7 separate regions of the Homo sapiens genome follow, and regions 2, 3, 4, 5, 6 and 7 are each linked to region 1. The links come from fine-mapping of genetic effects on gene expression. A gene starts in region 1. Each other region holds a variant in brackets. All regions are shown on one strand. Distances are from middle to middle.

Region 1 (4,067 bases):
GTGGGGAACACAGCACAACGTCTGTGCATTTGCAGTCACCCACCTGTGCATCCCCTGAATCCTTCATTCATAAGTAGTACTCAACCAGGAACTTCTTTGGTATCCCAGCTCGGACACGGGAGGTGTGAATATATTTTTCATAAAGCCCAGGCCTTTATGCAGAACGATTTTCATCCTCTAGTGAGAGGCTGAAGTAACAAAGTGCTGTTGTTAAGATTCTTCCCATTGTGCATTTTTCTTGAATAATGACATTTCTAAAAAGAATCTGAAACTGAGGCATTAGAAGGCAAGTGCTCGTTCATATATTTGAAGAGGTCAAATATTTACCAGAATAACTTCTCAATACAGAGGGGACAGCTTTATTTTATTTTACTATAAAGATGTATGTGTAGCAGAAGACAAATTATGCAGAGCTTTGAGTTAGTTAAGAATCATCTGATTTAATTCTTTGGAGAAATGAGACAAATTGTAGCTAAGGACTATGGAGTTGTTTTAGTTTGCCAGTTATATTTAATTTGACTATTTCTTTATTTATTGAGAGACAAAGTCTCACTCTGCTGCCCAGGCTGGAGTGCAGTGATGCAAACACAGCTCACTTCAGCCTTGACCTCCTGGGCTCAAGCAGTCCTCCTGCCTTGGCCTCCCAAAGTGCTGGGCTTACAGGTGTAAGCCATGGCACTTGGCCTATTTGACTTGTTTAATCCCTCCGAAGAACTCATACATACTATTGCCACCTCATTTTCCACGTAAGAAAATGGAAGCACGAAGACCTTAATAACTTGCTTAATGGCTAGTAGGTGGTAGAGCTTGAATTTAGACCACACAGTGTGGAGGGTATGCTATTAAGGAAAAACGATGTTCTAGTGGGGTTTCCATTTAATATTGCAGAAAAAAGAATCTATATATTTAAGAAGGTGTTATTTCATGCACACTCGTAGGTTTTGTTCATATATGCACATCTGACGTATAATTTAACATTTGTGTAACTTCAAGCTTCTATGGGGAGTGGCAGAAGATGCAGGAATTCTATTAATACCTTCGCAGATCTTAGATTCCAACAAGCTGGATACCTTAAGAAAAATAAAGAAATTGCTGTGCTTGGATCCCAGATGTCCATTCCACCTTTTGGGACCTCCCGGGGGGCCCTCTTTTCTTCATCCTTCAAGACAAGGATAGTGGGGTGAACAGACAGACTTTCCTTGCGAGGGTTGGCTCAGGAAGGCTCTGGGCTCATCTCACAGCCGCCCCAGCGAGGGTCGGGGAGGCAGGTGCTGGCTCCGGTGGGGTCTGCGGCAGAGCAGGACTGGAGCCCAGGGCGCAGCTGCACAGCTCAACGCCGGTTCGCGCCCTGGTTTACAGCGTTGGGCTGGGTCACCCCTTCTTTCCTAGCTTGCTGCTGTGTGTTCCCTCGGTGTAGGAATCAGGGGAGTGTCTTCTGGAGGCCACTAAAGCAGGAATAGCATTTTCATGTTAGCGTGCACGGGCGGTCTCCGCAGCCCCTCCTCGTGCCGGAGCCTGTCCTGGGGCCTGCGGGGCGGCTCCGGGCCTCGGGCCGGCGCAGGCGGGCGGCAGGGGGCGCTGTGCGGCTCGGCGCGGGGGCGGGGCCGGGGCCGAGCCTCCCGCGTGCCCGGCCTCTGTGCGCGCTCGCGCCCCGCCCGCGCAGCCGCTTCTCCCCGCGCGGGCTCTCGGCAGGCGGGAGGCGGCAGGGCTGGCATTGCAGTGCGGGCCGTGCGGGCTGCGCGGGCGCGGGGAGGCGCGGGCGGCAAACTGCGGGCACCCGGCACCCCGCAGCCAGTACCGGGCGGAGGCGTCAGAGCCGCGCACCGCGGACGAGCAGGCCCAGGTAGAGTGACGCGCGTCCCCTTTGTGTCCGCATCGCCCGGGCCGGCCGCGGAGCGGGGAGGGCGGGACGCGGCGCTGCGCGGCCGGCCTTGGGGCTCGGGGCTTGCGGCCGCGCCTGCCCCGCTGGGTCCTGCCCCGGCGCCCGGTGGCAGCGGGCGGGGGGCAGCGTCCCGGGCGGGGACTCGCGGGCTCCGTTCAGAGGACGCCCGCCCTGCCCTGCCCGTGTCCCTGACCTCGTCCCTGCTCTGCTCCTGCCCTGCCCTGCCTCTCGCAGGCGGCGCCCGCGCCCCAGGGCAGTGGGCGCTTAGGGACCTGGCGTCCCCCTGCCTGCCCTGCGCGGTCGCGGGTCTGCGCTGCGGCGCGGGACAGGGCGCCCCGGGCCAGGGTCCCGCGGGCGAGCTGGCGGCGGGGGCTTTCAAGGTTCGCGGCCCCGCCCGCAGACCCTGGGGCTGGAGCCTCGGCCCCAAGAGGAGGTCTGGGAAAGGACGACGCGTCCGGGGCATCGCCACCGGCGGGGAAGGTCGGAACTGGCCAAGAGGATGCCCCGCACATCCCCTGCGCGCGGGGTCCGCGGCTGCTACTGCCCCTGGTCCCCACCGCGAGCCCTTTCCCGGGGAATGAGCCGCCGCCCGAGCCCCGGAGTTCCCTGCGGGTCTTACCCACCCCAGCCTCCGGCCGCCGACCCCAAGCCCCCTGCACTGTGCTTGGCTCCCAGCTGTTTGGTCGCTTATGCCATCCTGGAGGCTTCCTGGTCCTGGGGTGAAGGGGTGACTTCTTTACCCTAATGGTCTTCGTAGGCAGGTCTCAGGATGTCCACTCCAAAGTTCGTGGTCTTTTTTCTAGAGAATAATAATTTTTAAAATCCATTGAACTGGCCGGGCGCGGTGGCTCACGCCTGTAATCCCAGCACTTTGGGAGGCTGAGGCGGGCGGATCACGAGGTCAGGAGATCGAGACCACGGTGAAACCCCCTCTCTACTAAAAATACAAAAAATTAGCCGGGCGCAGTGGCGGGCGCCTGTAGTCCCAGCTACTCGGGAGGCTGAGGCAGGAGAATGGCGTGAACCCGGAAGGCGGAGCTTGCAGTGAGCGGAGATCGCGCCACAGCACTCCCGCCTGGGCGACAGAACGAGACTCCGTCTCAAAAAAAAAAAAAAAAAAAAAAAAAAATCCATTGAACAAACATCCTGCGCTGCCTCCTGCAGGATCAAGGCTGGGGTAACAGAGGAGTGAGGTAAGGCCCCAGGGAACTATCCCCAGTGGATCCCTGCTGCCCTGCGGTGAGAGGGGGTCTAGCTCCTGCACTAAGAGCCTGGGAAGAAAACACTTCCCGTAATGGGGCCTGGGAGATGGAAGGAGGACATGCCCCAGTGAATGGGGCTGGGGTTGAGAGTTGAGCCTGGCAGATAAGATGGATTTGTAAATGAAATGCCAGGTAGAAAGTAAGTTGGTGTAGACGCCTGTGGAGCTGTGGGAGCCCCCAGGAGGGAAGGGAGGGAGTCAGGGTGTCCCTGCAAAGGGAGTCCCCTTTGCAAGGGAGGGGGTGTCTGAGTCAAAGCTTGCAGGTGGGGCAGGTCAGAGGTGGCAGGAAGGGCCTCTGTCCAGAGAGAGCTGCTCCAGCGCAGGAAGGGGGAGGGACAAGGTGTGTGACACCGTGAACTTTCCCAGGGGATTCACCCAGTGGCTCCAAAGGAGACAACAGCCTTTTTTATTGTATTCTCTTCTCCGGTACTGAGATTAGGGAACCTTGTTTTTTGCACTTTTCTAATGCCTTTTACATTTTTGTTTTTATTTTTAAAGCGTGCAAAGGAAATGTGACTAGAGGGGTCAGAAGAGGATAAATCATGAAATCTTTGAATTCTAGGCCAAGACTTTGGGTTTGACTCTGTGTCAGTGGGAGCCATTGATGGTTTTGGAGGAGGAGGGTGATCTGAGCCCTGCTTTAGAGTGATTTCCGCGGTGTTGCGTGGAAGGGAAGGCATGGTGTGGTGTGCCTTACTGTGGCTTCCGAGTCAGACCCCCACTGGCTGTGGGCTTCCACCTGCATCAGGCATCAAAGGCTGTGGATGGATTGAGGACCTCATGAGAAAATGGGTGCAAATAACCCAATTTTAATGGGATGGAAATTTTCCAGACCCAGTGCAATTTGATTTTTGCAGTTTGTGTTTTTAAAGAGCTCCCGATTCTAATGTCAGCAACTCTGGAAGAGGAACTAATGAAGGGCAA
Region 2 (4,067 bases), 34 kb after region 1:
ATACATACACAGTAAAATTATTAAACTACAGAGAGTGTATTAAGTAAAAATTTAAATTCTGTACCTTCTTTCCCAGAGAAAACCACTATCATCATCACCATTATTATTATTATTATTTTTTTATTTACCCCTCTAGAAAATTTAGGAGGCATAAAAAGATACCCGCTTTTTAGTCAGAACAGGATTCTGCCATATTACTGTTTTAAGCAGTGCGTTTAAAGAGCTGTATTCAGTAGAATTTGACACATGAAAAACTTCATTATGTCAGTTTTGAAGCATAATTAGCAAATATCCTGAACCTGCCTTTCAAACGAGAGCATCGTTGATGTGAATGGTGCTCCCATATATTGCTGCCCTGGCATCCCACCTTTCCCCTGAGCTACCTACTAATCTTTCCTTGCTATTTTAAGCGTTCTTTATTGCTAAACCTTATATCCTTTTACTCATTAACAATGATATTGTGTTATAGGTAGACTTGCTCACTCAGTGTTCTCTAAGATTTAACCGCGTTGTTTTGTGTAACTGCATTTATTCATTTCATGTTGTGTAATATTTGATAATGTTGGCGTCGATTTCTTCATGCATTCTCCTGCCATTGGATGTTTGGGTTATTTTCAATCTTTACTGTCACAAAACAGTCTGCTGTTAGTATTCTTGGTTCCTAAATACCTGGTCCATAAGTGCAATTTTTTTCTTGATTATATACCAAGGAAGAGCACAGCTGGGCCTGAAAAATAAAAGCTAATTAATGATTAAGTTTGCAAGAAAATGTTGTAATGATTTCTGAAGTGTGATCATACTAATTCACATTGCCATCAGCAGTGAATAAGAGTTTCCTTTAAAATTTATGCCTTTCTTATCCTAACACTTGGCATTAGGTGTCTTAATTTTTGCCAAATTAATGGTAAGATGAATTTAAGCTACCAGTAATATTGAGCTACTTTCCCCATGTTTAATCACCATCTGTTTTGTCCACTGTAAAATGACTGCTCGTATTTTTGGTCTAGTTTTTTTATTGGATTGTATTTTTCTTATTGATTTGAACTCATTTTCCTGTATTCTGAAGACTGTTGTTTGTTTCAAGTGTTAAAAATATTACCTCCCAGTTTGTGTCATCCATTTTCACTTTCTGTAAGTTATCTTTTTAATGACTAGAAGTTCTTGATTTTAACATGCTGACTATATCAGCCTTGCCCATTTATAATTAGGGCCTTATATTTAATATATTCTTCTGTATTCTGAGGTCATAAGTCACTCTCTTATATTTAATAGTTTTAAAAGTATTTAGAATTAACTTTTGTGTGTGATGGAGGAATCCAATGTGGTTTTTATTCATAAGGAAAAATAATACGTAGTAACATTTATTGAATGGCCCTTTGTCTCTATTTATCTGAAATGCACACTCTGTTATGTGTCATGTTTCCATGTATTCATGTTTTTTTTTTTTTCTCTGTCTCCTTTATTAACTTGGTTAGGTTGCCCACCTCTGTGTCAATGCAGCCTGCTCTTAATGACTCCAGCTCTCTAGTAAGTTTTGGCACTTGGCTTCCAACCTTTTCCCTCTTATTTGGTGGTGTTTGGCTATACCTGGTCCTCTGCCCTCTATAGAGATTTTAGAGTTAGTTTATGAACTAATAGCACCATTAACAACAGCAGCAAACCCTTGTTGGGAAGTTGCTTGGATTGCATTAACTCTGTAGGTCAATTTAGAAAGAATTGGCATATTCTGGGATATTGACTTTCTCATCC[A/G]TGAACATCGTATCACTATCCATGTATTTATGTCTGAAATTTCTATGTTTTCTACTTTTCTCTAGATACACCTTACTTATCTTTTGTTGAATGTGCTCCTAGTACCTTAGTTTCTTTTATACCCTTGGAAATGGAATCTTTGCTGGAATGTATAAATGTAATTACCTTTTTAATATTGATCTTGCATCTAGTCACTTTACCAAACCTTTGGTATTCTTAATATTTTGTCTATAGATTCTTGTACATATACTGTATTTTTAAATAATGAAATTACTGTTTATTCATTTTCAATTCTTATAGTTTCTCTTTCTTGTGATTGCTTTCTTTTTTGCATTAGAGCCCAAGGTACAATATTGAATTGAAGTAATAGCAGACATCCTTTCCTCCAGCCTGAGTTTTATAGGGAATGTTCTAATTTAATTAAAAATACGTTTGCCGCCATATTTTTCTAAATGTCATTAGGTTAAGGAAATTACCTTGTGTTTCTGATTTGTCGACTTTTATTTTATGTTTTTAATCATAAATACATGTTGAATTTTATCAAAGGCCTGTTCTGCATCTATTAAGAGGACCATATGGTTCTCACTGTTTTTTTATGTTCTGTTACGCTTACAATATATTCCAATGTTAAATTCTCTTATACTTCTAAGAGAAATCTAGCTTGTTTAAATACACATCTGACACACAGCTGGATTCTATTTGCCCATATTTTGTTTTAAATTTTTGCTTCTTTACTCATGAGAGAGTTTGGCCTATATTTTTTCTTTCCTTAACTGCTTTTGTCTGATTGAAGAGGGAGGGTTTTTTTTTTTTCCTGTTTTTCCCAATTTACCAGAAGATTTTGTGTACGATTTATATTATCTGCTCTTGAAATTTTGGTAGTACTCAACTGAAAACGAGACCTAGTGATTTCATTGTAGGAAGATTTCTAATCAATTTTTTTCAAAGTTTGTAAAATTATTTGCACTCATTTCTTCTTGAGTCAGTTTTGTTAAGCTTTATGTATATATATATGTTATATATAAAAAAGTATGTTAACATATATTTATATATATAACTTAAGAAAAAATTTAAAAATGAGCAAATAGAATCCAGATGTGTATTTCTATTTTATATATACATATACACACACATATATATGTTTTAGAGCTGGAGTCTTACTATGGTATGCAGGTTAAGTTGTATTCTTTTAGGCATGTGTTCATAATTCCCTGCTTTTCAATTTAATTCGCATAAAATTATTCACAGATTTTTAAATCTCTTCTATTATTTATTACAATACAATTGTTCTTTTTTCTTCCTCAACCAACCTGCCAGATTGTGCATTTATTATGATTTTCAAAGAAAAACACTCTTGACTTTGTTGACCCTCTGTATTGTAACTTTACTTTGTGTTTTATTTATTTTTGTTTTTGTTTGTTACAGGTCTTCTTTTGCTCTCTTTGATTTTGGGCTATAGTTGCTTTTCTTACTTTTTCAGCTAAAAACAGCTCAATAATTTTTAGCCCTCTTTTTAAAATATAAGCATTTAAGATTATGAATTTTCTTTTCAGGGCTGGACGCAGTGGCTCACACCGGTAATCCCAGCACTTTGGGAGGCTGAAGCCGGTGGATCACCTGAGGTCAGGAGCTTGAGACCAGCCTGGCCAACATGGTGAAACTCCGTGTCTTCTAAAAAAATACAAAAATTAGAGCGGCATGGTGGCGGGCGCCTGTAATCCCAGCTACTCGGGAGGCTGAGGCAGGAGAATTGCTTGAACCCAGGAGGTGGAGGTTGCAGTGAGCCAAGATCGTGCCACTGCATTGCAGTCTGGGAAACAAGAGCAAAACTGCGTCTCAAAAAAAATTTTCTTCTCAGTACTGCTTTAATGGCATCTCATAAGTTTTCTTAAATAATATTCTCATTAATGTTTAGTTCTACATATTTTTAAAATTACATATTTTTCTATAACCCATGAGTTACTGATAAGTCTTTCAAAATTTTCCAACGTGTGGGATCTTTTTATTATCAATATCTATCTTAATTGCATTGAGGTCAGAACACATGGTCTGCTGAGTTGTTCTTTATGTCCCAGTATAATGTCAGCTTTTGTGAATGTTCTGTGTCTTTTTGAGAAAACTGTGAATTCCCAGTTTATTGGTTCTGGGTTTTTACAATCTATTACATCAAGATTGTTTGCAGTACCTTTCATATTTTCTACATTTTCACTAGTTTTGCATGTTTGCCATTTTAAAGTCATATATAATGAGTTTTCTCAGTGCGTTGGTGTACTTGGCATTTTTCTCAGTAAGTATCATTTTTGCTTTATATATTTTGA
Region 3 (4,067 bases), 60 kb after region 1:
TAAGACCAGCCTGGGCAACAAGTTGAAAGCCCATCTCTGCAAAAAATGCAAAAATTAGTCAGGTGTGGTTGTGGCACAGGCCTGTGGTCCCAGCTACTTGGGAGGCTGAGGTGGGAGGATCACCTGAGCCCAGGAGGACAGTGCTGCAGTGAGCCAAGATTGCACCACAGCACTCTAGCCTGGGTGACAGAGCGAGACCCTGTCTCAAAAAATGAAAGAATCTTGGATATCCATGCAGTGTTTATGTGAATACAAATAAGTACACAAAGTTTATCGTAGGATATATGCTGTTCTATGCTTTGCTGTTTTCACTTAACACATTTTGCAGATCTTTCCATTTGAATGGATAGAAGGCTTTTTCATCCTTTCTTCAGCGGCACAGTATTCCATTGTGCAGACCTTCCATGGTTTAGTCCACAGCCTGCTACTTGAGTTATTCCCAGTCTTCTGGTATTACAAACAAGACCCCAGTGACTAACTTCCTCCACTGGGCACATGACTGGAAGTGGGATTACTAGGTCAGTGGGTACATGTAGTAAATCTTTGGTAGATATATTGACATTTTCCCCATTTCATGTGTTATATCATTTTGAACTCCAGCCAGTAAGGTGTGTGAGTAATGGTTGACCTACAGCCTCCCCCACAGGGTTTGCGAAATATTTGAATTTTTGCCAACTTGATAGTTGGGGAATGGCATCTTGATATAGTAAGAGTGAATTTCTCTTCTTATAATTGTGTTTGTTTGAGGGCCGTTTTTCTTTTCCTGTGAATTTTATCTCGTTCCTTGATCGTTTTTTATTCAATTGTTGCTCTTTTACTTCTCAATTTATAAAGTTATGTATGTATTAAGGAGAATAACTCTTTGGGATACATTTTGCAATGTTTTTCGTTTTGTTATTTATTGTAACTTTCTTTGGTTTGCAGAAGGTTTTGAAATTTATATATATATGAATTTCATATATATAAAACTATATAAATTTCATATATAATGATATATGTCATATATACATTTCATATATATAAATTTATTATATATACATTTCATATATAAACTTTATATATAATATGAATATTGCACAAAGAAAAACAGTTACTCCTCACTCTCATAAGAAATGATTTTGTGTGAGTATGTACTACCCTTTCCTTTGTCTGTTGTACCATCATAATGAACAGATGGGGTTTATGCTTACTTTTCACCTACCAAAATTATACCAAAAGGCTATTGGTTAATCCTGCAAAATGTCATTCTATAATACATATTCTTCTTTTTTTAAAAAAACTGGTCTGATACGCCTTTGAAAATATTATATTCATGCACTTGCAGCTTTTTAATATTACAGACAATGCTGTAATCCACATTTTCATGCCTGCAATTATTTGTTCAATGGATGAAATTCCCAGAAATTGGGCTTCTTGATCAAAGGATTAAAAAAATTTAAGTTCCTTGATAAATATTACGCATTGCCTCTCAAAAGTGTTAGTTCATTGTATGTTACCATTAGCCATGTTTATTGCTTTCTCTAAGACTATAACCAAGTTATTACAATTTTTTAAATGTTCAGTTGATTTTATAGGTGGAAAATAAGCCCTGTCGTTCTCCACATGAGTAAAGCAGGATGCAGAGAGCTTAGGAGATGTGCCAAGATCCCAGGGCTGGCAGGAGGCAGGCCCAGGGCTGGAAGCCAGGCCTCCTTGTTCCCAGGAAGGGAAAG[T/C]TGCGTATGCCTTTTGAGTTAATGACACGAAAGCACAGACAACTGGACATGGTTCTTTTGAACATCGTAACATCAATTCATTGGGATCAAATCAACACTGAGCATCAGTATTCAGTGTTTAATGCACATTTTAATTTCACTGCAGAGAGGATCGCACCTCATTACTAGCGGTTATTGAGTCACTACTCAGTAAATATTTACTTTCTACGTGTAGTACATTATACCAAATAGTTGATATTATATGGGCATAAAATGATCTCTGTTACTGGGAAACTTCTGGTGCAGGAGAAGCGGTAAACCTTTTATTGCTGTTACAGGAGCTTTCTCCCAGGCAGCGAGCTTTAGAGTGTCCATTAAACTTTACTGACCAATTTTTTATGGAGCACTTCCTCTATGCTTGCACTGTTATAAATTCTTGGGATAGAATAGTGAACCCAGCAAATAAAAACTACTGCCCTCATTGGGGTGTCTATTCTGGAGAGACAAAAAGAACATAAAGGAGAGAAATAAGTTACACAGTAGACAGTATTAAGCCTATTGTTTTAAGGAGAAAATGAAAGCATAGATGGTAGTGAGTGTCGGGGGGAGCTGTTGGGGAGTTTGCCTTTAAGATACATCACCCTGGAGTCACTGGAAGTTTCCATCTGGGAGACGTCTTGTGAAATAGTGTCCTTGGTGGGTATGTGGTCAGCTTGGGGAACCCATAGAACTGCATCACAGCCTCACTCCTCATCCTCAACAGGGGCTAGTAGACCAGGAGAGGAGAGGAGGTGTGGGCACCCTCGTGAGGTAAAGGTGTCTGTGGTCCTGCATAGCTCTGGAGGACGTGGACTTCTTTCTGGAATGACAGGAAGCTCCTAACAGGACTTTATGTGTCAGAGGCCTATGATGGCCTGTGAATGTGGAAAACATGGTTGGATATGGTGGGTTCTATTGTTTTTGGTGCTGTAATTCTATATTAATGATGCTCAAGTGACCAAGGACTTGTACTCTCTTAACAGCACATAGTCCCATTAGGCCCATTATCATTTCAACAAGATCCTTCCTGGGAACAGACTTCTAGACAGCCCATGTCTTTTCTTTGTGACTGGTGCCTCCAAGCTCAGGGACACCTTATAAAGGTTCCAGGGGTAAAAACCCAAGTTCGAACGTGGGGCTGGGAATAATTACTCCACACAGACTTGTGTTATTGTGGGTATTCCCAGCAGGAACGTTCCCCGCCTTGAAGACTCTTCCCAGGTTGCCGGGGTTTTCTTGGGAATAATTTGAAGTTGACATCTCTGTTTCCTTCCAGGAAAGGTTGCATCAGTTTATGTGATCATGTTCAAGTCCCTCGAGGTTGGACTCAGAACCAAGCTGAATGCTCAGGAAACAAGTAGGCTGGTTCTGCAGTCTGAGCCTGGACCCTGTCTGTTTGGAGGCTTTCCTTCTCTCTTTGTGAATATTCTCTTTAGAAGAGAGCTCTCTTTCTGCACCTGTGGGGATCATCACCACCATGTCAGAACTGAGTAAGTTCTGTGGTTTGTTTTTATAGCTAACAGAGTTTCCCATTGTTGTCCAGCAAAGGGATGGAGCACTGGATGGGTGAGGATTGGCATCCAGAAGAAAGGGTGGCATGAAGGGTCCACGTATCTCTGCCCAACTTCTGGGCTGCCTCTCTGTCTCATGAGCTCATCTGCACTTGGTGGTCTCTGCAGCCAGGGTCAGAAAGTAGAGAGACAGGAGCAGCCTTGTGTGTTTCCTGAGTGCCTATTGGAGTCTAAGTTCTAGAATAGTGGGCGAGGGGCTGGGATAGGGGCTCAGCCTTGTGGATCTGAGGGATGTTGGACAGAGATGTCTCTTCTGAATGAGTGGGAGGCGCTGCTGTGGGTTGACCCTGAGCCTGTGGTCTTCAGTCTTGGCCAAGGCTGTAGGGATCACGTGGACTTCCTCACAGGGAGGGTGGGAGATGCAGATGAGATGAGATATTTTTTTTCCTGGTTATTAGGACAGGCAGTCTCCAGCACTGGCTGTGAGGGAGGCAGAGGTGCCTTCTGTGTGATTATGATTGGGGAAGTTGAGCACTGGATTTATCTCTGCATCCTAGCCAACTAAATGGTCTGTCATTGCCATTGTTAAACCAAAGACCTGTTTAATACCTAGAAGACTCTGTGATGAAACAGACATTCTTCTCAGGTGTGAAAAGTTAAAAGAAATCATTAGCTTTTTTTTTTTTCCTGAGGGTGGCCTCTTTAGTATTTCGAAAGGTGAAACAATCAGATTAGCAATTACATCTTTGGTGGGGGACCAGAAGTTATTGTTTATGAATGAGCCTTCCAGGCTCCACAGAAGCCTCCAGGGTGATGTGTACATGAA
Region 4 (4,067 bases), 76 kb after region 1:
TACATATATATATGTATATATAATTGTTGTTATAATTATGGAATAGCTGCTGTGACCACTGTCCAGAAGGCTAGAACATAGTTCCTACCCTTGAATAATGTATCGTCAAGTTGGGGAGGTAAATTCACACATATGTCAGACTTTGAGGGTCACACTTACCCAGAAAGACTGGTGACATGGTAGACCTCCAAAGCCACACTTACCCAGAAGAAATGGGAGTTACTATGAGAGTGTAGGCCAGGGCCTTGTAGACAGGACAGCTGAGTTTTGGTATTGTTGAAGAACGGTGCACTTGGTGGGCTTCGACCCACACAGCCTTGAGTGAGATAGACTTGGTTGGAAATGCTGTTGAGTGGAATGATACTGACCAGTGGTTCTTGGGCTTCATTGTGCATCACAGTCCCTGCCAGGCTCACGGAAACAGATCACTGTGCCGCCCCACCCACCTCCCCAGAGTTTCTGTTTTAATGAGTCGGGGTTGGAGCCCAACCAGTTACATTCCAGCAAGTTCTCAGGTGATGCTGATGCTGGTGTTTAGAGAGCGCTGCTTGCGAAGCCTGGTGGACCACACACAGCAGAGACCCAGAGACGGGAGACAGCGGGGAGACGTGAGAAATCAGAGGAGACATCACACAGCACCAGGACTGATGCTGGGTGTGAAGGGTTTGTAGGGTGTGGAGAACGGGTAAGGAAGGAAAAGGGAGTTAGGCTGCAGAGGAAACATGAGAGTGTCCCAGGCAACTGGAGGAGAGCAGGGACTTGCTGGAGGAAGGCATGAAAGTAAGAGGTGGATGATGACTGGCTGGCAGCTGCCTACCTTTCCAAGGTTTGCTTTGAAGGAGTAAAGGTGGGAAGAATAGGGGCCTACAGAGGTCCGTAGCCCTGGGGCTCAGAGATGGGATAGTTTTGGTCAAATAACCACCTTGGACCTTGCAGGAATCTGCTGAATCTCTCTACAGTGGACTATTTTCTCTTCCAGCTCTCTCTTATCCTTGTGTCCACACCTCTTTCATCACAAGGCACAATCCTTTGCACGGTCTCAGTCATGCTTAATAAGTAAATTGCCTTATGCACATTTTGAATTGCTTAAATTGAATAATACTTATAATTGACCAGATGTTCCTAAAACAGTTTGCCATTTCATATGACTTGACATTCACATTAGGAAAACAAAGACTGTGCTTTCTTTTATTGTGCATTGTGATTCTCTTAGCATAATCTGATTGCAAGTTCGCAGCTGTTCGCTGTTTGCAAAATCATATTAAGGCCATCCTGTGTGTAGGGAAGGTCCATGATGGGTTTAGACAATATAGACCCCTTTTTTTTCTGTAAAATATATCCTGTTGTCACCATTTGAATCACGATTTTGAGCACAACTCAGAGACTGTGTATTCTGTTGGGGAAAGAATAGTGATGTGATTCCTGGAAATGGTGCTGTGACCTGCTTCAAATCCAGCTCATGGGGCTGGCGGGGGAAGTGGGAGGTGAGGGCCATGGGCTGACCTGTGCCCAGGGCAGGGGAAGCCACTGGGGGCCAGATAGAAATCATGGTCCAGGCAGAAAGGAAGTCAGACAGATGGAACCCTGTACGCTGTGCCAGGAGGTCACAACAGAGAGGCAGTAAACAGGAAAAGGAGCCCAGATCTGAAGCTGGAAGGAGAGAGAATTGTCTTGGGAACAAGCACGATGGGGCAGGGCAGAGGTCCAGCACAGAGGCTATAACTGGCTTGTGGGGCAGGGAACTGTTCACGC[G/A]GGGTGGAGGTGGGGATTCCAGGGCCCTCTGTGGAGCGGTTAAGCTCTGCCTCTGGGTAATGCGTTCTCGGGTGATGTCCAGGCTGGGAGCATAGTGCATGGCTGTCGATAAGGGAGGAGGCTTTAGGAGGTTTTGATGTTTGATTCTTCTAAAAATTTTCTCCATTGGATTGAACTTCCGAAATGACTAATTTCACCATATGATATCTCTTCCCAACAGCTTGTTTTATCCATTTTGTCTATGTAGGTAAAAGTCTAAGCTTGTTAACCTGACATATCATAATGACTTCTACTTACCAAGCTCCTAGTATCTATATATTAGATATATTATTCTAATATATTGCTTCTTACTTCTCACTCACTCTTCCCAAGTCTACATGAGTGGTGATGGTGATACAGGCTTTACAGAGGGAAAAAACAAAACAACAAAAACAAAAATTGAGTTCACAGAAGTTAAATTTAAGTTATGTGATATCTTCAACATCAGCATAACCAAGTGGCCAAAAAAAAGGAATTTGAAGCCAGGTCTGCTTGACTGCAAAGCGTGAACTCTTTACCCTGCAACTTCCCCAACAGCCCGACAGAACTTGTACCCAGTGCTTTTTCAACATTGTCAAAAAACAAGCTCTCCCCAGATCTCCAGGCCAGAGCAGCCAATTGCCAGCTACTGCCCCCTTGAAACTTTTCCAGCCCTGACTGATTTCTGCAGCCTGCCCCAAGCCTCAGTGCCTGGGGTGAAGGTTTGTGATCCAATTTAGGGCCAGCTAACATTTTAAAATATAATTATCATGTTGTCCAGTGAACTTTAAGAGATGCTACTTAAAAAAATTATTAAGTATTAAAGCAGAAAAAAGATACAGAGAAATCAAAAGAAAAAAGTCACAGCCTGTCAGCCTAGGACCCAGAAAACCCCATGTAGAGATTGAAAATGATGACAGTCATAAGCATAAGCATAAAATTCAAGGTGTAGAGAAATGATCCAAATGAATATGACCCTGGGGAGGACGCCTTGATGTCTGTACCCCCTGCAGCCCCAGAGAGCCGTGTGACGCCTCCAATTATCTCACTCCTCAGGACCCACCAGCTTGAGGTCAAATCATGATGCTTGTTTAAACTATCTTGAAAGTGCTAGCCAGTCCAGAGGAATTTGTGTCAAAGAGTCCTTTTGTAACAGGGAAGACACATGTATTTTAGACTGAGTGACTTGCAGGCACCAGCTGCCCTTGGAAGAGGCCCCTCCAGCTGCGGCCCACTCCCGCCCCAGACGCTGAAGGCCTGCGCAGATTCCCAGTGCAGATCCCGGGCGGTCTTCAGTCACCCCCTCAGTTGCTTGAGCTCTGGTAGTCAGGGTCTCCTCCTCGAATCTGGCTCATTTCTGCCTCTCATGTCCTTCGTCATGTGTCACTGGGCCCCATCTGCTGGGTGAGCTTTCAGGATCCTGCAGGTGCTTCCTTCTGGGCCAGACGTGTCTTCTCCCTCCTGGTAGAATTCTCCCTCCATGTGGAATTCACCAGGTGGGTGAATTCTCCCTTCTCCTTCCATGTGGAATTCACCAGGTGGGTTTTCCTAACTAAATATTAGCGCAGTGACACCCAGTGAGGTGTCAGTCGTAAAACTTGAGAAAGGGATGATGTAATTTTTTTTTTTTTTAAGTTAGGACAGCTCCTTGACCCTGGGAATAAGCTACTCAAATGACAGTAAGTCCCAAACCTACCTGTGGCACACAGCGGCATCGTCAGATTCCCTGTCTGCTAAGCTGTGGCTGAAGGAGACATCACAGGGGAAGGGGAGTGTATTTGTTAGGGTCCTCTAGAGGGACAGAACTAATAAGATAGATGTTTATATAAAGGGGAGTTTGTTAGGTAGTATTGACTCACACGATCACGACGTGAGGTCCCACAGTAGGCCATCTGCAAGCTGAGGAGCAAGGAAGCCAGTCCAAGTCCCAAAATCTCAGAGGTAGGGAACTGACAGTACAGCCCTCAGTCTGTGGTCGAAGGGCCAGGAGTCCCAAAGCTGAAGAACTTGGAGTCCGATGTTCGAGGGCAGAAAGCCCAGCACAGGAGAACGACAGAGGCCAGAAGATTCAGCCAGTCCAGTCTTTCCATGTTTTTCTGCCTGCTTTTTATTCTGGCTTTGCTGGCAGCTGATTAGATGGCGCCTACCCTGGCTGAGGGTGGGTCGGCCTCTCCCAGTCCACTGACTCAAATGGTAATCTCCTTTGGCAGTACCCTCACAGTCACACCAGGAACAATACTTTGCATCCTTCAATCCAATCAAGTTGGCACTCAGTGTTAACCACCACAGGGAGGAAG
Region 5 (4,067 bases), 110 kb after region 1:
TCGTAGGTTGATGCATAGGAAATTCATCATATCCAGGTCTTTTTCTCCTACAAAATCTACAAGGTCACGTGGTTCTGCTGGACACTTGCCCCTGCTCCTGTTGAGTCCAGGATCCTCATAGAGGAGCTGCCACTCTACCCACCACCCTCCCCAGGGTGTGCTCACCAGCTGCTCCCTGTGCGCCCCTTTTCCCATTCCACCGTCCCCAGCTCCTGTTCCTTTCCGTGTGACCCCTGTGCCCTGTTCTAGCCCCCGACCCTCTCAGGGTCCCTGCCACACACCCCTGGTCTCCTTCCGGGCGAACCTCTCTTCCCGTGTCTGGAGTGCCCTGCTCTGCCCTCCTCCTTTCCCTGGGGGCTCCTGCCACACTTCAGGTGGGGATCACATCCCTTTGTCAAGCTTCATGGTTCCGAGGACAGGGTTGGGGCCTCCACCCTCTGTGTTCCCCCTGAGATTCTCTGCATTGATTACAACCCTGGACATATTGGATTTGAGTTCTTGCGTTGACAAGGCCGATTCTGCCATCAGGATGAGCTCCTGACACACAGGGCCTGGGCCTTTCTGAGCAGCCTGCATCAGGCAGGCAGCTGCAAGCACGAACCACTTGTACTTATACTTCACGTGTACTTGGCATCTTAGGGGCTTCAAAACTTTAGATGGAGGCTGGTGAGTGTTTGGAGCCTGATGACTTAGTTTTCTTTATCTGTGACATTCTAGTCTCATTTAAATTATTGTCCAAAGATGATCTAAATCAAAATTCAGAAATCTCATTTTGTGGAAATTTTTAAATCAGAAGATGTCACATAAAAACTGGAATTTCTGGCTTCTCTGGGAAATCCGAATCCTAAGCCTCTCCGAGGCTGCCTCCCCATGCTGGCAGCCAGCGTAGCAGAGCCCCAGCTCTTGCTGGAGGCGCCTCCTGGGCCAAAGCCCCACAGTCCTCACTACTCCTTGTCCCCTGGAACTGAGGCTGCCTGTCAGCTGCCATTTATAACTGAGAAGACACTAAGCTATTTTTTGTATTGGAGGGTTTGTTGTTGTTGTTGTTTTTGGTTAAATCTTCTCCTCAACCATGTTTTTATCCAGCCCCTGACCACTTCACTCATTAGCATCACCTGCGCACCTCTTCAAGCTGCTGGGCCACGTGTAGATTGTGATTAAACTGTCCAAACTCCTCTCTGCTTTTATAATTTGAGTTTACAGTAAATGTTGTTAGTAATAATTTTAAATCCAATTCAGATACTAAGAAATATTTGAAAACCATTGTCTATTCCATGCAAAATTTTATGCATAGCACAGTACACCAGAACTTTCATATTTTAACGGTTTTCATTTTGAAATGTCTCCCCAGGAGACACTGTACACGCTGTTCCTGCCGTTTCTTCCAAAATCAGCTTGTGAGTCACATGAGAAAATTGGTTTCTTAGCTTTAAGGTCACACCTGGCTTTCAAACCAAAACAATGTTATCTAACCTAAAACCCAACCTTGATCACCAGATCCGGTGTCTCATGACTTCCAGCTTTTTGCAAAATCAAAGTCATTCTC[A/G]GAAGGAGGCCAGGCCTAAGGTTTACTCGGAGCTGGCTCTGTGCTGGATCCCTCTGGAGACATTTGCACATATGCTATCTCGTTTGCTCCTTGCAACAACCTTAGTTCATTCTTTATCACATTCTGCATGACCAGGTTGGTCTGCAGTTTGCTTTTAAATTGGAAGCATTTGAGCTAGTGACAGTTGTGTTATCTTTCAGTAACAGTTGTTAATAATAACTACTGTTTATTGAGTGCCTGGTACTTATGTGCTGGATTTTGTGCTTAACATGTTAACATGTGCAACCTCTGTAATCCTCACAACCGTCTGTAGAGATCGATGCTATTAGCCTTATTCATCTGGTTTGCAGATGAGACACGTAACACATAAATCGCACAGCTAGGATCTGTCTGTCTCAAGACTCTGTGCTCCTAATTAGGAGGACATACTGCTTCTCTCATTATTTCTTACTCTGTTGCCTTCTACTAATGGACCAAACAGTCACGTTCAGTTGGAATGTGCACCCCAAGTGGAGGATTGTTCACTGCCAATCATCAGACAGCTCCTACTAAAGTGAAACTACATTTAATGCTCATATTGACTGGAAGCTTGTGAGAGATCCTTCAGCCAGAATGCACTCAAAAAGCCAGAATTTGCTCAACTGCCGTGAATATATACCCATACATGTGTTAAATTCTGAAAAAGCTGCCCCGAGAAGGAGGGATGCATTTTCTCCTGCTGATGTTTGTTTGATATAGTGAGTTCCAACAATATAGCAAATGGACCCCCATAATCAGTGATAACTCCTCTTAACAGTTTATCATTTATTCCTTCAGATGCTTTTCTGAATATTCTTACCCATCTTTTAAAAATTAACAGCATGGGGTGAGTCATACCTAATGTCTGTGTTATCTTTCTTTAGCAACATTGAACTACTGCTACCCTTTATCAAGCACTTCATAAAAGCTGCACCCTGCGCTGTGCTCTTGGCACACGGAATCTTTTCTCATGGTCACACTGATGAGAAAACTAGGGCTTGGAGGGTTGCTCCACAGCTGGTTTGTAGCAGACCCAGCTCTGACCTCAGCTTAAAGCCCTTCTTGCTAACCCTGCAGACCTAGCCAACTTCTGAGGAAAACAATTCTGTAAGAAGAGCCAGGTGGATCTATCTCAAGTAAACAGTGTGTGTTTGTGTGTGTGTATTTGCAACATTTATTTATTTTTCTTATAACAGCAAAGTACATAAAATTTATATCAACCCTTTGGAAAGTAGACAGCTCTGTGAATAAGGATACAATATTTGACCTTAACACTATGATTCAGATACCTCCGTTATAATAAGCCTTTCGCTGTATTTTCTTTTGTTTGTATACATATATCTCTAAATTTAGATATGTGTTGATGTTGCTGTAATTTTTTAAAAATTTTTCCTAACTCAAAGTGGCTGATTCACAGTGTTCTGGTTAATTTTTTTTTTCTGGAGTTTCTGTTTCTTTGTTTTTTGGTTTTTGTTTTGTTTTTTCATTTAATACCAAGAAAACTCAGTCTGTGAAGTGGAGCCGATGCTTCCAGCATAGCCAGTGCTCCTGGGTCTCCCGTGGGATCCGTTTGTGCAGAGTCCTCACGGCGTTTCTCCCACAGTGCTGCTTTCAAAATGGAAGAAGATGACGCGCCCATCAAGCGCTGCCCCAAGTGCAAAGTCTACATCGAGCGAGACGAAGGCTGCGCGCAGATGATGTGCAAGAACTGCAAGCACGCCTTCTGCTGGTACTGCCTGGAGTCTCTGGACGTGAGTACGGCCTTCAGCTTCACCTTGCGGCATTTAGCTTTGAGGTTTAGATTTGGAATGAGAAAAATAGACCAGCTGTTTCCTAAAGAGCTTGGTGCCTACTCCTGTGTAACAGTGAAGCAACACCGTTTGGTGTTTCTCCTGGGTTTGTGAAAACATTAACTCATGAGCGCCATGGGGACAGAAGCCTTTGTGACTCGTATAGTCCTGGGGTCTAAACACTTCATGCAGGTTCAGGATCCAGCCTGGGATTTAAAGGGGTTTTAGCATCTTAGGTTTTGTCTAAGCGGGGACTGTCATTGTCAGTTTGGGCTGCTGTGACATAATATCATAGATGAGGCAGGTTAAATGACAGACATTTATTCCTCATGGTTCTGGGGGCTGGAAATCCAAAATCAGGGTACACCAGATTTGGCTCCGGGGTTCCTGATCAGGACTCCTTCCTGGTGTTCAGGATAGTGAGGACAGACAGAAGTGGGGGCTGGGGGGCTGTTGGGCTTGGGGCCAGTCTTAAGACTTCATTGACACTCACATCATCTACAGGGCGGGAAAACGTGCAAGCCCTTTGCTCTCTGGCAGAATGGAAGTTCTGGTCTCATACGGCAGCCTTCTCCTAAGTATGCTCTGCTTCAGTGTTTCTCAAACACACCCTACCGTGTGTGCCTGCAAGAGCCATGTCCCTGACGGGAGGGCACAATCTCCCAGGCCCACACGTCTCTGGAGCTTTGAGGCCTGATGCACAGGTTGCTGCT
Region 6 (4,067 bases), 98 kb after region 1:
GGCATTTTGTCTGAGCAAGCTTGGGTTCACATCGAGGCTCTGGGTACTATTTGTGTAAGTTGGCAACTTCCTCCTTTGCTGACTCAGTTTTCACATATGAAAAATGGAACAGTCATACCTTTCTTGTAAAAATGCTCTAAGGCTTCAGTGAAAGACTGAGAGATAAAATATTTAATGCAGTGCCTGCATCTTATAGGCATTTGAGAAATATTACCTCCCAGCCTCCCTTGCTGCCTTTCATCTTGCTTTTAGAATTCTTGGCTCTTGTGTTTGCTGAGGTTTTGTGCCGGGATCTAACCCATAGCCTTAGCTTTGTGATTGAGCATACAGTCCCTGGCACAGAATGGGTACCCCATAAATAGTTGTTGAATGAATAAAACCTCAAAACCTCAAATGTGTTGGTTGCTGTGGACTACACAGTGAAAATATTAAACTGTAATGGAATGATGTGCCTGGTCCTTTTTTTAATGCATCATGGTTTCTTCAGCATTAAGGAGGTAAAGATGTTTATAGACACTTCTCTGTTTTTCTTTCAGTGCCTGAAACAGTATGTTGAGCTCTTGATCAAAGAAGGATTAGAAACCGCAATTAGCTGCCCAGATGCTGCCTGCCCTAAACAGGGCCACCTACAGGAGAACGAGGCATGTGCAATTGAACAGACTGGGCTGTTTGATGTGCACAGGCGTGCACTGCTGAACTTGTCAGAATAACGTGGGTTTTGTTTGGGTGTGCGTTGCATTATATTCTAGCCCTCAGCTTGTTATCATTCCTGTTTGCATTTTTTTTTCCCTTAGATTGAGTGCATGGTTGCAGCTGAAATTATGCAAAGATATAAAAAGCTACAATTTGAAAGAGGTAGGTGCCTGGTATATCTGCCGGTTATGATTCCTGTAATGTGTGAATGTGGATAATTTTGTGGGGAGTTCTTTTGGTAGATATGGTTATACAGCATTTGATAGGAGTTAAAAAGTTGATGTAAAATAAACTTCTGAAATTAAACTGACATTCTGGATTCTCTGAACAGCTCACAGTTTGAAGACCTTGTCTAGTGATCTATTTGGTAGCAGGAAGAATTTATGGAACACAATTTGTTTATAAGGATTGAGGCTCCTGGGGGAGGCTTAAAGTTGATGGCTCTCTTGAGGTATTATATTTCAGCCAGCTTAAGGCTGAGTTTGAGGGCTAAACTCTTGGACTGGCCCAGAAGTTAAAAGATGCAGAGTCATGGAGGGAAGTCGTGAGGGTAGGCATAGCAGAAATTACAGTAACCCCCGTCCTAACAACAGTCCGATGGTAGGTGTCCTGTCTGCGCTTACTCACCACTGGACACAGACCTAGATAGTAGGTGGTGAATGAATAATCAAGTCCCTTATCCCAGTAAGTGTCACAACAACTCTGCAAAGCTAATTTGTCATTATCTAATAAACGGATCCCCAGAGAGGCTAACTGACTTGCCCTGATTTCTAAATATAGTGGGTGCTTTGGGACCACATCCCATGACCCTTCATCGTGAGCCCTCCACTGGGCCCTGAATAGTCCTTCTGGCTGGAGCAGGCCTGATGCAGACCCAGGGGTCCTCTGGGAGAGCAGTGTGGCAGGTGCACACAGAGCAGAACATGATTCTCAGGATAATATTGCAAAGCATTAAGCCATGTGGAATGTCCAGGAGAGGTCTTTAGCTCTGCTCTCTGAAATACTCCGGGGTCATACAATGAAACTGTAAAGAGTCTGTGGACTCTCTTTGGCTTTGTTTTCATATCTATTCTGGGCCCCAGGCTTGTCTGGTAAAGAGCAGAGTGACAGATGTGTGCAGGC[G/A]ACACTCCATATGCAGAACATCATTGTGTGGACCTTGCAGGCGGATTCTGAGTTTGGATTGCTGGCATCTGCTCTCCCTCTCCCTGCACTGATTCTCGGGTTCTTGACCTGAGCAGGGTCTCACCACTGAGACACAGCCCTGGAGGGTGGGCTTACATGAAAACATGGCCGGATGGGGAGTGGACGGCAGAGGAGACCAGAGGACAATATCCAGAGACTCCCAGTTTAGCTGCATGCAGAGACCTGTTGTTTGTATATTTTTGCTTTCTAAAAGAAATGCTAGAGATAGCTGGGCCCAGTGGCATGTACCTATAGTCTCAACTACTCAGGAGTTCAAGTCCAGCCTGGGCAACATATTGAGACCCCGTCTCTAAAAAAAAAAAAAAAAAAGAAAGAAAAAGAAAAAAATATGTAGCCCACTTAAAAAAAAACTCAAACAGCATTTTTCATGGCATTGACATTTGTTTTCAAGAGTGTGTTTATTAAAGTGTCGTATATCATTTGCTTTGGGGCAGTTTATAGCTTTAATATAATGCCATTTGGTACAAAAGTCAGTACGTAGGGCAATAAAATTGATTAATTTAGACTTCTGAGACTTTCAGGCTCTTCTGAGAATATTTTCCAGAGAGAATCTTGACAGAAACTGGCTGTTGTTTGCGTTACAAGAATATGAACTTTCTATGACATTGAATTTAATTTAAAAATGCAGCTGGGTACATTTTTCAACCTAATAATTTTAACTGTTATTTCTTTAGTACTTTGGCTTAGTCAGAAAATCTTTTTTCCTTTTGCATAAACATGAAGCCAACTTGGCTTCTGTTAAAAAAAAAAAATCTCTCAAGCCTCTCCCTTTAAAGCATTTTACTAACATTATGTTCAAAGTTTTTTTTTTTTTAAGTATTCAGACTTCATACTATAAAAGACCTGTCTAGATAAAACGTTAGAATGTCAGAGCTAAAATATAGTTATGGATTATAGCCAGCACCTTGAAAGAGTTTGGAGACAAGATCAGAAAGCAAATTTTGACTGTCTCTATGGCTCTAAAATCTAGTCAAGTAGAGGACGCCCTGGAAGAAAACTGAGACAGTTCAATGATTTTCTGAAAACATTGAGTTACCAGAAAGTTCTATGGTTAGGTCATGTTGCGCACACTGTCTGCACTTAGTCTTAGAATGTCTCCTCTGATATAACAGCCTTGGTTTTAGCGTCAATGTCTTCCCCTTCTGGAGCTCTGGGGCAAGCAGGAAGCCAGGGAAGGGGGCCAGGAAGCTGAGTTTTCATTCTGAACACCTCCTCACAACTGGCTCACTCCAGAGTCTGGGTAGGGACAGATTCTTGAGCGAGGGGGTGTGGATGCCTCTTGCTGCGTGGACCCCTCTCTCATGCTACACTCGACGCCCGTGGCCCTCTGAGACCCAGCGGTGCTGTGCTAAGGGCGTTGCTGTGCACCTGCCTCTATCTGGAGGCTCAGCCCTCCCAGAGACAGGACTGTGGGTCCTCATGCCTTCGTCCCATGCCAGCCCAGTGCCTGGCCAAGTGAATGCTGATGTCAGATGTCAACCGTGTATTGTTTTTTTTTTTGTTCTTTGTTTTTTTTTTTTAAAGTAAAGCTCAGAGAGATTAAATAATACGATGGGTTATCCACCTGTAATCAGGCCTGACTAGAGCCGACTCCTGAAAATGTTGCCATCTCACAGCAGGATCAAACCCACCATCCCAGCCCTGCACCAGGCACCAGCCCGCCGGGCAGGGTAGTAAGTGCAGGGATGAGAGGGGATGCTGGGTGCATCGTTCTCTGTCATGTACTTCTGAAAGGAAACTGTTTTAAAAGGAAAGCCACCTTTTTAAAAAGTTTTATGCATTTTTAAGCAGGGAGTTCTTAAGAGACCTGCTTCATTAATCTGCCATGAATACGCCTCTGGGAGAGAAGAGTTAACATTAGTTTCCTCTAGTGTGCCAAAAAGCATATCATTTGCTTTGTTTGAAAATATGTCTCATACACACACGTGTGTAGATTGGGGAGGATAATGCAGAATGTTAATAGACATCTACGCCTCAGCCTGGGGCCATGTTCACAGGGTGTGACATGCCCCGGCAGCACAGGAAGGACATTTGCAGTCTGCAGTCAGAGCGGCCGTTTGTCCCTGACCTTTTCGATAGGGAATCTCTCCATGTGAGGACAGGCAGTGCCGTGTCACAGCTATATGAGGACAAAACTAATAAGATTTAAATCGTTCCCATGGAAACCTTAG
Region 7 (4,067 bases), 140 kb after region 1:
AGGTGAATATATTGCAGTTGGTAGACATATATAAATCTCTTTGACTCTATAGGTTTCTTCTCCTATTTTTGTCCTTGCAATGTTTTTGTTAAACAGTTTTTTTTTCTACAGAGCACCCCACATTTTGCATTTTGCCGACCGTATACCTGTATGCTGTGATATGCTCCCCTTCTCCTGCATCACCTGTATGTATGCAGGTCATGGTAGTTACCTGGATGTATGTATAGCGGGTCTATCTAGAGGGGCATTTAAAGAACTTGGAGTGGGAGCTTTTTGACATGGATTGAGAGAGGGTGAGGTGAAAAACCTGTTTAAAAAAATACTGTGGATGGGCTGGGCACCGTGGCTCACACCTGTAATCCCAGCACTTTGGGAGGCTGAGGCGGGCAGATCATGAGGTCAAGAGATCGAGACCATCCTGGCTAACACAGTGTAACCCCATCTCTACTAAAAATACAAAAAATTAGCCAGGCATGGTGGCGGGTGCCTGTAGTCCCAGCTACTTGGGAGGCTGAGGCAGGAGTATGGCATGAACCTGGGAGGTGGAGCTTCAGTGAGCTGAGATCATGCCACTGCACTCCAGCCTGGGTGACAGAGCGAGACTCCGCCTCAAAAAAAAATAAATGCTACTTTGGATGTATCAGAATAATACTGTAAAGGATTAACCAAAGGCTTCAGCTTTCAGTACGTCCTGTTCTGTGCCATGCCCCGTGTTCCCCTCCCACCCACTTCCTGAGTCAGGCAGCAAGGGCATCTATGCTCATGTTGTCTGGTAGGGTTATTACATCAAACATACAGAGAGAAACAAAAGAGTCAAGTGTCAGCTTTCATGTTTTAGAAGAGACTTTTGATGAAGATGCAGAGTGACCAGTATAGAGAGAACCTTGGGGACCAGCTGGAGGCAGATAGCTCAAGCCACACCAGAAGGTCCAGGTGCCAGCAACCAGAGTCCAGCAGTTAAGGAGAAATCTCAATAAACTCTAATGATGACAGATGCTGAGCACTGAGAACCCAGCACTTTCCTTCTCAGTGCTTTGGTGCTGGAGAACTTACACCAACTCAGAGGAGAAAGGGTGAGAGAGAATCACTAAACCAGCTGAAAATCCTTGATTTGCTTGCTTAATATGAATTACTTAAAATTTAATTTTCTTCTCTTGAGTAAAAGTGGCGCTGCAGGTAGAAAAATAAAGTTATGTTGTTGTGGACATCTGAACCCACATAAGGGCTTGTTTGTGTAGCTGTTTATACTTACAGTCTTAAAATGCTATCATAGGAAAATAGCACATTCAAATTAATATTCCCCATCATGTCAGTGTCTTGAAACGTTATCCATGTTCTGGAAGTTTCAGCCATCAGAATGAATCTTCTAGAGTGAATCTACTGCTAAACATAGTTCAACTAATTGTGTCTCCTCTTTCTTCTTCATCTCCTCCTCTCACTTCTCTTCTTTGTTTCTCTTCTTTCTGCCCCTTCTCTTGGCACTTTCCTCAAAACATTTGAAAGTTGAAATAAGACATGATCCTGTTTTGTTTTTTTTTTTCTTCCTAATCTAAGGTTTCCAGATGGATTAGGCTGGCATTCTGC[G/A]TTCCCAGAAATATTTCCAGAGCTGAGAGGGGCAGGAAAGAGAGCACATGTGCTGTTCCAAGCTGTCTGTTGCCTCTGTGTGGCCATCTGTCATTTTCTTCAGGCACACGATGACCTGCAGGGCTGGTTCTTGCTTTTGTTACCTTCAAATCCTGAAGGATTCAGACAGACTAACATTCCAATGCCCTTTATAACCTTTCCCCCTGGCAAAACTTCAGCCAGAATAAACCAAAAATGAAATGGAGAGAAAGATCACTGCATCTTTCTGGATCCCCAAATTTCCATTCCAGATTTAGGGCTGATGTTCCCAGCTCGTTGTCCCTAACCACATCGTTGTCACCCTTGGTTTCCCAGACCACACCAGAGATGCGTAGCATTCCCTTACTCTCTTCTCACCTGCAAGAATTTATAACCTCTTCTGAGACCCACTCAGATGCCCCATCTTACATAGAGCCTTTCCTGTGCAGTCATCCACCTGACCCCATCGCCCCTGCAACCCCTGCAGTCTTTTGTTTTTCTTATGCTCTAGTAGCATGTGGTCAGATCAGCATGCCGGCACTTGTGTTGAATTGCAAATACCTATGTATTCCTTTTTGGCATGTAGTTTCCTTGAGAGGAGATGGGACCTGAGTCTAATAGTTTGTTTTTCCTAGTTTCTAGTAGGTGGCACCAAATGATTTCTAGAAGGCTGGATGGAACCTATGGAATCAAAGGGAAATAAAGCAACATTTTGATGCCCTGGGCTCTACTATGGTAGTGGCCCAAGTGTTTCTACTCTGCTCACCCCTGACATTTATGTGAGCTGTCCATGGATATAAAAAAGCTGCTATGATTTCAGACCTGAGCTTCACCATCAGGTCCAAATTAATTCCCGACGTCCAGGCAAAAGAGGAACATGGCACTCTGACAACTCACCCCAAACTCATTTGTGTAAATATTTTTACTGCACAGTTTTATGTCTCCGAGTTGGTTTCTGACTTCCAATGTCAGCACAGAGCTCTCATGGGAGCCTAGCATTCCCACCAGGCTTCAGCTGAATATTTATGAATGTTCCATAGTAGATATTTTCTATTGTTCCTGGAAGACTTTTATTATTTAGAGAGCAATTAATCATATTCTGAGGGAAAATGGAGGAGCCAAGTCACATGGCAAGGGTGATGATGTTTTTTTTAATTCCAAGATGAGCAAAATAATCTCAGCTAAGGCTTTCTCAAAGATTTGCTTATTTCCCGTGTCTATCTGCACACATTTCTACGGGCCATGTTTCCATCACAAGCAGCCAGCTTAAAAATAGGGCTTAGGCAAGTCTTCTGCTGTCAGAATTGCACACCACTCTTTAGGGCCTATGATTTAGGCTGAATGCTGAGGCCTAGAACTACATCTTACATTTACTTTGGTAACGATGGCATTGCTTTTTAAATTACTCAACACAAGAATGAGAAATAGTTTTTAGAGGATAATATAAGGAGGGATGAATACTTTGTTGAGTGCTTATTATGTTCTTTAGATATATTATATGATAGACATTACCTATAATATATTGTATGTATTGTAAATAATATATGAGAGCATTTTTCCCATTTTACTCTGATACACAGAAAAGAGGTAAGAGATGATGTGTGAGTTTGTTATTGATAAGTAACTCATCATTCCAAAATCCAGTTGCTTAAAACACTGAGCATTTGTTATTGTCCCTGAGTTGAGTGGTGACCTGGGCAGTTCTAATCTCAGCAGAGATAACTCAGCCACCTGTGACCAGCTCGGGGTGGGCTGGGAACCTGGTTCTGCTGATTGAGGCTGGGCGCTCACTGTGTCTTGAGCTTTGGCTGGAACAATTGGACTAATTTGGCTCTGTTTCATGCAGTTTCTAATTAGGTTTGGCAGGAATTGTCTTCAGTGCAGCCTGAGCAGAGGTACGAGAAAGAGCAGAAAAATGCATGGTCTCTTGAGGTCTGGGCTTGAAACTTACATCTTAATTCTGCTGAGTTTTGTGTTGGTGGTGGTCGTGTTTTTGTTTTTGCTTTTTGCCAAAGGAAATCTCAAGACTGGTACAGAGTTAAAAATGAAGTACATTCTTCCTCTAGCTGGGAGTTCCTGCAAAGACCCATTGCAAAGGTTATGAATAACGGAGGTCATGTAATCAAGTACAGATGTGTTTTGAGAAATAGTGCTGGGTGCTAAAAAAAAAAAAAAAAAAAAGAAAGAAATAGAAAGAGGGCCTTCAATATCAATAGAGAAAGGTCACAAAAGACATTGCATTATAGTAGCAGGGACATTACAGCCCCAAGGTAAAATAAATTGATAATAGACAGTGAAGGAAGAGAGCCAGATAAAGTTTGCTCACCACTGATACTGGAGCAGGATGGACCAGAGGAAAGAAAGCAGAGACGTTTATCCAGCTTCTCTGAGTCCCTGATAATGTGGAAGCAGAGTCTCTCCCCTGCCCAGGGAACTGGCTGATTGATCCTTAATCAGCTCAAATA

Which allele goes with the higher level. Alleles are on the strand shown, and positions count from the first base shown. SD is a standard deviation of normalised expression in the study named. Not every link is listed here.
As copies of A replace G in region 2, the expression in liver of the gene that starts at base 1,633 in region 1 goes down (moderate effect, 0.69 SD a copy in GTEx).
With allele A in place of G in region 4, the expression in fibroblasts of the gene that starts at base 1,633 in region 1 is higher (small effect, 0.33 SD a copy in GTEx).
As copies of G replace A in region 5, the expression in subcutaneous fat of the gene that starts at base 1,633 in region 1 goes up (small effect, 0.28 SD a copy in GTEx).
With allele A in place of G in region 6, the expression in sigmoid colon of the gene that starts at base 1,633 in region 1 is higher (small effect, 0.20 SD a copy in GTEx).

The links. PIP is the estimated chance that this variant, and not a neighbour inherited with it, causes the effect.
Region 2: its variant is the best candidate, but not a certain one, in a credible set for the expression of RNF144A in liver (GTEx, PIP 0.56).
Region 3: its variant is the best candidate, but not a certain one, in a credible set for the expression of RNF144A in cerebellum (GTEx, PIP 0.57).
Region 4: its variant is the best candidate, but not a certain one, in a credible set for the expression of RNF144A in fibroblasts (GTEx, PIP 0.83).
Region 5: its variant is the best candidate, but not a certain one, in a credible set for the expression of RNF144A in subcutaneous fat (GTEx, PIP 0.84).
Region 6: its variant is the best candidate, but not a certain one, in a credible set for the expression of RNF144A in sigmoid colon (GTEx, PIP 0.74).
Region 7: its variant is the best candidate, but not a certain one, in a credible set for the expression of RNF144A in blood mononuclear cells (TOPMed, PIP 0.88).

Annotation. Positions count from the first base shown.
Region 1 is chr2:6,915,780-6,919,846 of GRCh38, forward strand. It overlaps RNF144A (ring finger protein 144A), which reads left to right and starts at 1,633. Exons shown (of 9, transcript NM_014746.6): 1 at 1,633-1,843. It overlaps GRASLND (glycosaminoglycan regulatory associated long non-coding RNA), which reads right to left and starts at 2,903. Exons shown (of 5, transcript NR_033997.1): 1 at 2,623-2,903; 2 at 1,071-1,445; 3 at 44-188. RefSeq lists a silencer at 1,473-1,962.
Region 2 is chr2:6,949,843-6,953,909 of GRCh38, forward strand. The region is part of intron 2 of RNF144A (ring finger protein 144A); the gene reads left to right. Among named protein-coding and RNA genes, the nearest start is that of GRASLND, 33 kb to the left of the region's middle. The variant A/G (reference allele first, on the strand shown) is at 1,750.
Region 3 is chr2:6,975,620-6,979,686 of GRCh38, forward strand. All of the region lies in intron 2 of RNF144A (ring finger protein 144A), which reads left to right. Among named protein-coding and RNA genes, the nearest start is that of GRASLND, 59 kb to the left of the region's middle. The variant T/C (reference allele first, on the strand shown) is at 1,713.
Region 4 is chr2:6,991,821-6,995,887 of GRCh38, forward strand. All of the region lies in intron 2 of RNF144A (ring finger protein 144A), which reads left to right. Among named protein-coding and RNA genes, the nearest start is that of GRASLND, 75 kb to the left of the region's middle. The variant G/A (reference allele first, on the strand shown) is at 1,753.
Region 5 is chr2:7,021,202-7,025,268 of GRCh38, forward strand. It overlaps RNF144A (ring finger protein 144A), which reads left to right. Exons shown (of 9, transcript NM_014746.6): 7 at 3,168-3,315. Among named protein-coding and RNA genes, the nearest start is that of GRASLND, 100 kb to the left of the region's middle. The variant A/G (reference allele first, on the strand shown) is at 1,547.
Region 6 is chr2:7,013,918-7,017,984 of GRCh38, forward strand. It overlaps RNF144A (ring finger protein 144A), which reads left to right. Exons shown (of 9, transcript NM_014746.6): 4 at 537-641; 5 at 795-855. Among named protein-coding and RNA genes, the nearest start is that of GRASLND, 97 kb to the left of the region's middle. RefSeq lists an enhancer at 3,251-3,750. The variant G/A (reference allele first, on the strand shown) is at 1,816.
Region 7 is chr2:7,058,735-7,062,801 of GRCh38, forward strand. It overlaps LOC101929452 (a long non-coding RNA gene), which reads right to left. Exons shown (of 3, transcript NR_110252.1): 3 at 3,993-4,067. It also overlaps a transcript of RNF144A not described here. Among named protein-coding and RNA genes, the nearest start is that of GRASLND, 140 kb to the left of the region's middle. The variant G/A (reference allele first, on the strand shown) is at 1,585.